Homo sapiens: one gene and its partners. The protein of the gene in region 1 purifies or fractionates together with the protein of each later gene. This does not show direct contact. Each region holds a gene or a part of one and is shown on either strand. Other genes may lie near its edges.

What was found.
Region 2: the proteins of RUBCN (region 1) and STXBP4 purify together in Homo sapiens (affinity purification with mass spectrometry; one large-scale study listed by BioGRID and IntAct). This does not show direct contact.
Region 3: the proteins of RUBCN (region 1) and SPATA33 purify together in Homo sapiens (affinity purification with mass spectrometry; one large-scale study listed by BioGRID and IntAct). This does not show direct contact.

The regions. Positions count from the first base shown.
Region 1 is NC_000003.12:197,730,324-197,733,979, reverse strand, and holds part of RUBCN (run domain Beclin-1-interacting and cysteine-rich domain-containing protein), read left to right. Parts: intron 1-3,656.
Region 2 is NC_000017.11:55,167,724-55,171,063, reverse strand, and holds part of STXBP4 (syntaxin-binding protein 4), read right to left. Parts: 3' UTR 1-3,340. UniProt on the Homo sapiens protein: Plays a role in the translocation of transport vesicles from the cytoplasm to the plasma membrane. Inhibits the translocation of SLC2A4 from intracellular vesicles to the plasma membrane by STX4A binding and preventing the interaction between STX4A and VAMP2.
Region 3 is NC_000016.10:89,660,718-89,664,373, forward strand, and holds part of SPATA33 (spermatogenesis-associated protein 33), read left to right. Parts: exon of another isoform or gene 1-791; intron 792-3,656. UniProt on the Homo sapiens protein: Plays an important role in sperm motility and male fertility. Required for sperm midpiece flexibility and for the localization of sperm calcineurin to the mitochondria. Promotes mitophagy as well as acts as an autophagy mediator in male germline cells.

The DNA of each region.
Region 1 (3,656 bases):
CCGGCCCGAGTCTGTACTTTTAATACTCACCCTATGCTGCCTCTCACTATGCTAATAGTAACAACGGAAGTATAAGATAGTGAATAAATTTCACAGCATTCTGTGCCTGTCATTCAGGCCAGTAGGATAGCTCCTTTGCAGAATCTTTTCCCGTCTTTTATTCTTTTTATGATTGCCTCTTAACCAAAAAACTTTAATCAAAACTTAATTTTAGTAGTGGGGTTATCCTCACAAAGTCACTCCCGTCATTGTTATAGGCATACTGTGTTGGCGGCTGATTAATTCAGAATGCGTTGTTTAATGAGGCTTCATGGTACTGATGGCCTCCTTAGCTCCAGATACACAACTGGTAAATACACATTCCTTGTGCCTATTAATTGAGGCTTTGTGACTGGGTTACTGCAAACATAACCTTTCTATGGCCAATGAAATACCCAGTTCAGAAACAGTCTTCTTGATGAGATAGCATCATTTTTATTTATTTATTTATATATTTTAAAGATAGGGTCTCACTGTGTCACTCAGGCTGGAGTACAATAGTGCAATCGTAGCTCACTGCAGCCTCAAACTCCTGGGCTCAGGTGATCTTCCCACCTCAGCCTCCTCAGTAGCTAGGACTACAGGTGTGTGCCACCACTCCCAGCTAATTTTTAATTTTTTCAGATTTTTTGTAGTGACAGAGTCTCACCATGTTGCCTAGGCCAGTCTCAAACTCCTGGCCTCAAGGGATCTTGCTGCCTTGGCCTCCCAGAGCACTGGGATTACAAGCATGAGCCACTGTGCCCAGCCGGTAGTGTCATTTTAAAAATGAAGGATGAAACTTTTCAGTGTATTTTCCTTAAGTAGTTGATATAATGAAACGTGAATAAGCTTTAAAGTCAGACCTGCATTTGAATCCTAGTTCACGGATTAATTTGGCTTAACTTGATCAAGTTACTTTACGTAACCTGCCTGAGTAGGAAGAATAATGCTTTCCTGCCTGAGAAGTTCTGAGGATTCAATAAAACAATGTGCATAAAGCTCCTGAGAGCCTGATACGTAGGAAGTAGGAAAAATGTCGAATCCACCCCTTGCTAGTTTTTTTGAAATAAGGCGAGGGTCTCCCCCACAAGTGACTGTTTGCAAGGGTATCACTTGTTCTTCCTCTTTCAGTGGCTCCTTCATCCGAGTTGAACACATTGGGACCTAGAGTGTTGGCTTAGCTTCCCACTTCCCCGGTAGTGTGCTTAGGTGATGGGCTTCCCTATTGTTTTCCGTCTAGCTATCACTCCAGCCAGATGCTCTGGGGCTTAGGGATGATACTTCACTTTCCCTCCGTTTCCTAAATGCCAGTTATTTTGAGGTTGCCTGGTAAAACTACTACACTACACTGGGCACGGTGGCTCACGCCTGTAATCCCAACACTTTGGGAGGCCAAGGTGGGTGGATCACGAGGTCAGGAGATCGAGACCATCCTGGCTAACACAGTGAAACCCCGTCTCTACTAAAAATACAAAAAATTAGCCAGGCGTGGTGGCAGGCGCCTGTAGTCCCAGCTACTGGGGAGGTTGAGGCAGGAGAATGGCGTGAACCCGGGAGGCGGAGCTTGCAGTGAGCCGAGATCACGCCACTGCACTCCAGCCTGGGAGACAGAGTGAGACTCGTCTCAAAAATACCCAAACTACTAGACTGGTAAACTGCTAAAGGAATGGTCTTTCTGGCATTGCTCTGTCTCCCTAGACCGCCTTGGCCATGCAGTGTACTGTCTCCCTAGACTGCCTTGGCCATGCAGTCTACTGCTGAGCTTGCAGCTCAGGTACATGTACTGCTCAGTGCTCCTGGCACCGTGATCCAGGTACAGTCAGAATTCAAGGAGTAAGATCCGTTTTAGCATCTCCAAACTAAGCTTATTCCACTGACCAAAACCTGCCCCTCCTCTGATCTCTGTTAATAGCATTTTCCACTCACTCAACATGCCAGAGCGTCAGAGTGACATTTGACATTTCGCTCTTCTCTATTTCCCATATGTAAGCAGTCACCAGGGTCTAAAATTCTGTTCCTAATTTTTCTTTTGAAGCCTTCTTTTTCTCTCCATTTCCAAATATAATGGCTTATAGTACTAAAAAATCTAGGGTGACTGGGAAGTGAGGAGCCACTCTGCCCGGCCAGCCGCCCTGTCCCGGAGGGAGGTGGGGGGGTCAGCCCCCCGCCCGGCCAGCCGCCCCATCCGGGAGGGAGGTGGGGGGGTCAGCCCCCCGCCCGGCCAGTCGCCCCATCCGGGAAGTGAGGGGCGCCTCTGCCCGGCTGCCCCTACTGGGAAGTGAGGAGCCCCTCTGCCCGGCCAGCCGCCCCGTCCGGGAGGGAGGTGGGGGGGTCAGGCCCCGCCCGGCCAGCCGCCCCATCCGGGAGGTGAGGGGCGCCTCTGCCCGGTCGCGCCTACTGGGAAGTGAGGAGCCCCTCTGCCCAGCCACCACCCCGTCTGGGAGGTGTACCCAACAGCTCATTGAGAACGGGCCATGATGACAATGGCGGTTTTGTAGAATAGAAACGGGGGAAAGGTGGGGAAAAGATTGAGAAATCGGATGGTTGCCGTGTCTGTGTGGAAAGAGGTAGACATGGGAGACTTTTCATTTTGTTCTGTACTAAGAAAAATTCTTCTGCCTTGGGATCCTGTTGATCGGTGACGTTACCCCCAACCCTGTGCTCTCTGAAACATGTGCTGTATCCACTCAGGGTTGAATGGATTGAGGGTGGTGCAAGATGTGCTTTGTTAAACAGATGCTTGAAGGCAGCATGCTCCTTAAGAGTCATCACCACTCCCTAATCTCAAGTACCCAGGGACACAAACACTGCGGAAGGCCGCAGGGTCCTCTGCCTAGGAAAACCGGAGACCTTTGTTCACTTGTTTATCTGCTGACCTTCCCTCCACTATTGTCCTGTGACCCTGCCAAATCCCCCTCTGCGAGAAACACCCAAGAATGATCAATAAAAACAAAAACAAAAACAAAAAACCTCTAGTTAACACATAATAATGCCCGCACTGAGCAGATGTTCACTAAGGTGTTGAATAAATAGTTGAAACTGTAAAAAAAAAAAAAAAAAAAAAAAAAAAAAAGATGCTTTTAAAATATGAAAAAAAAAGATATTTTAATGAGAAAAGCTGAGTGTTGGGAGAGAAGCTGATGCAGGGCTTGCATGTCTGCTAGACTTGCTGGCTCCTTGCTTCTAGCACTCCCATTATCTCAAGCAGCCATATGTTTCTCATTCACTTGATACACTGTTTCCTTTCAACCCCCACATCCTCACCACCTGTTTCTTTGTTTGATCATCAATAAATGGTGTGGGCTCCCAGAGCTCCGGGCCTTGGCACAGCATCCACACTCGTGATGGCCCCCTGGTCCCACTTTCTCTCTCAAAAAAAAAAAAAAAAAATCTAGGGTGTACTGTTGCTTCAGAAATGCCCAAATATGGGTGTTCAAATTAAGAATTTGTCTCTGTCTCTGGGCTCTGCTTCCAGATGTGTTGTTTTCATTCTCAGGTAGACTATTCTACAGGTTACCATAGCAACTCCAAGCTTAGCAATACCAGCAACAAGAAAGATGCAGTCCCAGCAGCTCCAGCAAAAGCAAAAATCCCGGGGCTGACTCTTTTTGGACTGACTTGAGTTATGTTTCTGT
Region 2 (3,340 bases), on another chromosome or scaffold:
ATAGGTCCAGGATCTTTGACAATGGCAAGATAAAGACGGTAAACTTAGATGTCCTGCAGGACTGCTCAACCAATGATACTGCTCTGAGATAAGTTGACATCCATAATCACAGAATTGGCCCCAGTCTTTCTCTGTCATGAAACTTGGCCCTCCCCAGACAATGAAAACATAAATATCACATCTGTGACAACTCTAGCATTTCTAGCAGGAAAAACAAATCCTGAAAAAGCATCAAATGCAGTGAATCTGACCACACAATGGTAAAATAGTTATTTCAATAAAGATTTTCATTTCAAAAAATGAATTTTTTTGTTGTTTCCACAATAATCAATTTAGTTATTGACAATGCAGGTCAGGCCTCATTCATGGCCATAACATAATCTCTGATCTTTCCAGTCCCTACAACACTACAAATTTTCACAGGATTATACATAGAATTCTAAAGCAAAATAATCCTAGAAAATATAAGTGGAAATAAAAATATATAATCAAATCAGATACACTTTTTTCATACACAATAAATCATTAGCATTTTTTCTTATAAAGGACAGGCTCACTGTAGAGTAGTATGCAGAAAAATATAATAAATAAAATAGATATCACAAATAATGTCATCTAATTTTTTTTCAGATCTTCTATGGTGTTTATATATACAATACTGTTGGTTTTATATTGTATACAGATCTGTTTCCTGTTATTACCACTTGATGTTATTATTGTGATACTTTCTTGGTATCATTAAACATTAGTAAACATTTTCTATCATGTTAGATACCATATTTTATTTAGACATTCCCCTGTTTTCAGGAATTTAGGCAATCATTTCTATTTTAAATCATGCTTTAATAAGCCTTTTAAGCATTTTTTTATTTTGGTCTAAACTTGGGGTCATTTGTGAGGATAAATTCACAGAAGAAGAAATTTTTAAGGCCTTTGATAGATGTTCCAAGACTGCTTTCCAGAATGTTTGTGGTGATTTATAGATGTCCTAAGAATATTTGAGGATATCTATGTCATGTACCTGCACTAACATAATTACTGTGTTTTAAAAATACTTTGGTTTTATTGTATCTTAAATAATTAATCAATAATTCTAAGGAAGCCTTATATCATAGGTGAGAAGGTTTGTTTGAAATTGGCAAGGAGCAAGGTACATGAGGGAGTTTGCATTGTCCACAGCCTTAAAGGTTCACTTCACACAGTAAATACTACAAAATTATCTGTCTTGGATTGTTTAGACATTCAATTGCTTGAATGTCCAGGGACAAACCACTTGATCTCTTCTAAGTATTTCATGTTAGGGTTTTTAGAAATAGCTTTTAACACAATTTTGATTGAAATAATTTTTCAGAAAGCCCATTTCACTTGTTAAGGCATTTCATCTTTAGCTGAATTTTAAGTATGCTATGAGATAAACCAGGAACAAGGAGACTTGATTCTCTATACCATATTTTATCGATTCTAAGACACACATTTTTCACATCTAAGCGTCTTTAGTATTTGGATGTATAATAGGCACTGCTAGCACTTTCAGATCCCTCTACCACTCTCATGCATGACAGCTCCCTGTGCTTTCACTCTCAACATTCAGCACCTGCACCTCTTTGTTGGACGGCTGTCCTCAGGCTACAGGAACATGCTTTGACTGCATTGCAGGCTGGAAGCACCTGGAAATTTACACCCACCCCCACCCCCACCCCCATTCAATAACTGATGGTGCAGAGGTATAAATACTCTGGGTTCTCTGGCCTCTGACTTGAACCTACTGTAGAACCTTTTTGTCTCTAGGGCTCTCCCGTGGGAGTGAACCAAAGTCATCTCCAGAATAGGCTTTGCTTGACATCACACTTTTTGTGGGTTTTTTTCCCCCTTTCCTTTGGATCGGTTCTATTTCTCTATTTCCCTATTACTTTTCACCCTTGGGCCACTTCCTAATTCACATAAATCCTTATGTCAGAGGAATTAAACATATTACAGGAAGTGTCTTACAATAATTGATGTCCTGCAGTTACTGTCAGCCAGGTGGTCATAGTGATATGGTTGTCTTTGCCTGTGCATGCATGAATTTGGTTGTTCTTTCCATGATATGACTGGACTGTTACTTCTTTACTTTTTGGTCAATAAACCATTTAAGGACTATTGAGAAGAGTATGAATCCTGATTGTTATCTAAAATTTTTCTATTAAGTCCTTTTGCCAAGATAAAAAATGTGCCAGCATCAGAGTTGTAGAATGGATGTCTAAGACAGGGAAAAAAATCTCAGAGACTGCAGTAGAATATTCCTTTAAGAAATGTTATTTATCCTGATGGCAGAGAGGGTGTTACCGTGAAAAATTGTGGTTTATGACAACTCTGATTCAAAAAAGAGATGCAGAAAGAGTTCAATTCTGAATGTACAGAGCTTTGTAAATATCATAATTAATATTTCATTCTCTTTTACACACATGATTTTTAAAAATCTATGCTGAAACAGTTCTCTTGTATTTACTTAAAGGCGTATAAGATAAAAATTCTAACTACTAAGTCATATTTTAAATCTTTTTTTCATTTTCAGTTACACACAAAATAATGATGGGTCTTATAACTGATGAAATACTAATTGGGAATATGGTACTTATAGAGACAGAAGAAATACAATCAATGAACAGTCTTAATTGGAAAAACTAAGGTAACTTCATAGACTTCTCACTTTCCATTTGTAGAGAGAGTTCTACTGGTAAATGAGGAACCACCAGTATTTGGTCATATTTTTGAAATTGTGTAGATTTTATTAAATATTTCTTATTCCTCCAATACGTGTGTGTGTGTGTGTGTGTGGTGTGTATATACACACAGATATATATATATACACACACACACACACACATATACTAAGTGTATGTGTGTGTATGTATGCATTCTATTTCCTTCAAATTTCCCTTATATCGAGTACTTTTATCAGAGAAGTAATCCATGCATTTAATTTGGTGCCAACTTCTTATTTTTGTGTGGTAATCACCAAAGAAAAATAAAAGCTGGCATTAGATTAAATGCATAGATTACTTCTCTGAATGATAAAACTGCCTAAAGAAATAGAATCTGCTCATAAACATCTTTTCATATTCCATTCCACAGAAATTTCTGACCTTACCTGTCTATATTACCTATTCCTATAAGGTAACTTTATTATCTACTCAATTTGTTTTGTCTTCCTGTTGTCTCTTCTCGTGTGTGCTGATGAAAGATGAATTTCTCCACTGTGAAACAGAACAGTCAAGCAATTCCAGTGGGGTTACTTATAGATGAGATAATTTCTGCAATTTCAGAGTTCTGTGGCAATACATAGCTCCCTTGTGCCAAA
Region 3 (3,656 bases), on another chromosome or scaffold:
CTGGGCAGAAATGGGAGCCGGCCACAGCTGAGCACAAGAGGACTTTGGAGGGTGATGGAAATGGTTTTCGACCTGAATCTGAACATGGGAAGCACTGCAGTTTAGTAGTCCTGGTCCCTAAGCCCTTCCAGCCCAGGAGCCAGACCTGTGAGCAAACAAGCCTTTAGTGATTCCAGGCTCTGGCTGGAACCTTGAGTCTTCTCAGCTTGGGGCATGCACCTCAGGGGGAGCCAGCATCAGTGTCCAGCCCCAAGAGCTTCCCTGTACGTCTCAGTGAGTCTTCACATGCCTCCAACTGCCTGGACAACCACACGTGATACCTGTCCTGCCAAACGTGTCCTGAACCCATAAAATCCAGAGAAAAGAAAATCGTTTTAAACTGCTGAGGTTTGGGGTAAGTTACTATGAAGCAGTAGTGAGAAGAACAGAAGGGCCATGATGGGGAGAAAGTTTGGCCATAAGTTAATCACTGTGGCAGCTGTTAGGATATTGATGTGGCTTGGCTGTGTCCTCACCCAAATCTCATTTTGAATTCCCACATGTGGGAGGAACTGGGTGGGAGGTGATTGAATTATGGGGGCAGGTCTTTCCTGTGCTGTTTTCGTGATAGTGAATGAGTGTCACGAGATCCGATGGTTTTAAAAACGGGAGTTTCCTGCATAAGCTCTCTCTCTGCCTGCTGCCATCCATGTAAGATGTGACTCGCTCCTCCCTACCTTCCGCCGTGATTGTGAGGCGTCCCCAGCCATGTGGAACTGTAAGTCCATTAAACCTTCTTCCTGTGTAAATTATTCAGTCTCTGGTATGTCTTTATTAGCAGCATGAAAACGGACTAATACAGATAGATGTATTATACTGTTACCCCTACTACTTCTGTATATGCTTAAATTTTTGCATTACAAAATTCACAAACATACAAACATTATAGAGAACTAACATCACAGATTTACAGTCACCTTATTCCACAATGTTGGAAATTCTACCACAAATAAAGAACTTGAAAAAAAAGGAGGGGATGTTAGAAGGAAATCTGAGCGACCTAGACCTGGGCTCAGTCACGCCTGAGACAGTCAGATGGGGTATCTGAGGATGAGTCAGTGTTAATTTTCTCAGACCTGGGCTCCGTCACTCCTGAGACAGTCAGATTGGGTATTTGAGGATGAGTCCGTGTTAATTTTCTTAGATGTGGGAATGCTATTATAGTTACGCTAAAACACAATCCCTATCTAATAAATACACTGCAACATTTATGGGTAAAATCATATGTCTGAAATTCCTTAAAGATACTCAGAATGCCAGGCATGGTGGCTCATGCTGTCATCCCAGCACTTTGGGAGGCCGAGACGGGTGGATCACTTGAGGTCAGGAGTTCGAGACCAGCATGGCCAACATGGTGAAACCCTGTCTCTACAAAAAATACAAAAAAATTAGCTGGGTGTGGTGGTGCACACCTGTAATTCCAACTACTTTGGAGGCTGAAGCAAGAGAATAGCTGGAACCCAGGAAGCAGAGGTTGCAGTGAGCCACGATCATCCCACTGCACTCCAGCCTGGGCAATGGAGTGAGACTCCATCTCAAAAAAAAAAAAGATACTCAGGAAAAAAACGAAGAAAGAACAAGATAACAAAATACTGATTGAAGCTGAGTGCTCTATAGGTGCAGGTGCTCATTCACTATTCTATTTTCTTGTGTGTTTGAACACTTTTTTTTTTTTTTGAAATGGAGTTTCCTTCTTGTTGCCCAGGCTGGAGTGCAATGGCATGATCTCGGGTCTCAACTCACTGTAGCCTCCGCCTCCCAAGTTCAAGTGATTCTCCTGCCTCAGCCTCCCAAGTAGCTGGGATTACAGGCGCCCGCCATGACGCCCAGCTAATTTTTTTTGTATTTTTAGTAGAGATGAGGTTTCGCCACGTTGGCTAGGCTGGCCTCAAACTCCTGGCTTCAGCTGATCCACCCGCCTCGGCCTCCCAAAGTGCTGAGATCACAGGCGTGAGCCACCGCACCTGGCCTCCCAGAGCGCTGGGATCACAGGCGTGAGCCACCACGCCCAGCCTGTTTGAACACTTTTGTGACGTTTTGTTGTTTGTTTGTTTTGAGATGGAGTCTTGCTCTGTTGCCCAGGCTGGAGTGCAGTGGCACAATCTTGGCTCATTGTGACTTCCGCCTCCCGGGTTCAAGCAATTCTTCTGCCTCAGCCTCCCGAGTAGCTGAGACTACAGGTGTGCGCCACCATGCCTGGGTAATTTTTGTATTTTTAGTAGAGACGGGGTTTCACCATGTTGGTCAGGCTGGTCTCAAACTCCTGACTTTGTGAACCACCCGCCTCAGCCTCCCAAAGTGCCAGTGTTACAGGTGTGAGCCACCACGCCCGGCCTGTAACATTTTCATGAAGGTAGAGTATACTTAATTGCAAGAAAATTTTGAAAAAGAAGAGAAATGGAACACTTCTATTGGCTATTAAAAAATACCATGCTGAGTGAAAAAAGCCAATCCCAGAAGGTCACATGCTGTATGATTCCATTTCTTTTTTTTTTTTTTTTAGGCTGGAGTGCAAATGGCACGATCTTGGCTCACTGCAACCTTGGTCTCCCGGGTTCAAGCAATTCTACCTCGGCCTCCGGAGTAGCTGGGACTACAGGCATGCGCCACCATGCCCAGCTAATCTTTGTATTTTTAGTAGCGATGGGGTTTCTCCATGTTGGTCAGGCTGGTCTCAAACTCCCGACCTCAGGTGATCCGCTTGCCTCAAACTCCCGATCTCAGGTGATCCGCTTGCCTCGGCCTCCTGAAATGCTAGGATTACAGGCGTGAGCCACCATACCCGGCCGTGATTCCATTTCTGTAACATTCTCTGAATGACAAAATTATAGACAGGGAGGACAGATTGTTGATTGCTAGGGCCTTGGCGTTGGGGTAGGGAGTGAGGGGGTCTGTGAAGGGCAGGGCTTTGGGGTTGGGGTAGGGAGTGGGTGTGTCTGAAGGGCAGCAGGAGGAAGATGGGATTGTTGGTTTTGGTGGTGATTGATTAAATGGCGTAGCTGTACATACACTCATAGTACCGGAGTCCATTTCCTCGTGTCGATAATGGTACTATAGTTATATAAAACGTTCGCTTTGGGAGCCAAGCACAGTGGCTCACGCCTGTAATTTCAGAACTTTGGGAAGCCTAGGCAGGCAGATCACTTGAGCCCAGAAGTTCAAGACCAGCCTGGGCAACATGGTGAAACCTGATTTTTACAAAAAAGACAAGAATTAGCTGGGTGTAGTGGAGTGTGCCTGTAGCCCCAACTAATCAGGGGCCTGAGATAGGAGGATCCCTTGACCCCATGAGGTTGGGGCTGCAGTGAGCCAAGATCGTGCCACTGCCCTCCAGCCCCGGCGACAGAGTAAGACCCTATTTATGCTTCCTAGCAAGGAAAGACAGTACACATATTGAAGAATTTGACTGCGTTAAAATGTTAAACCTCTCCCCAAACTCTTATAAACAATTGTAGAACAAATGATAAGCTCAAAAAAATATTTACATCTATGAGAGGCCAAAGAATATCAGTTGACTCTGGATCAGGGGCTCGGACACGTTGCTGTGGAGGCACACATCTTCCTGGAAGGCGGTTTGGTAACAAGGTGGCAGGACTCAAGACAGCCCACACGATCCC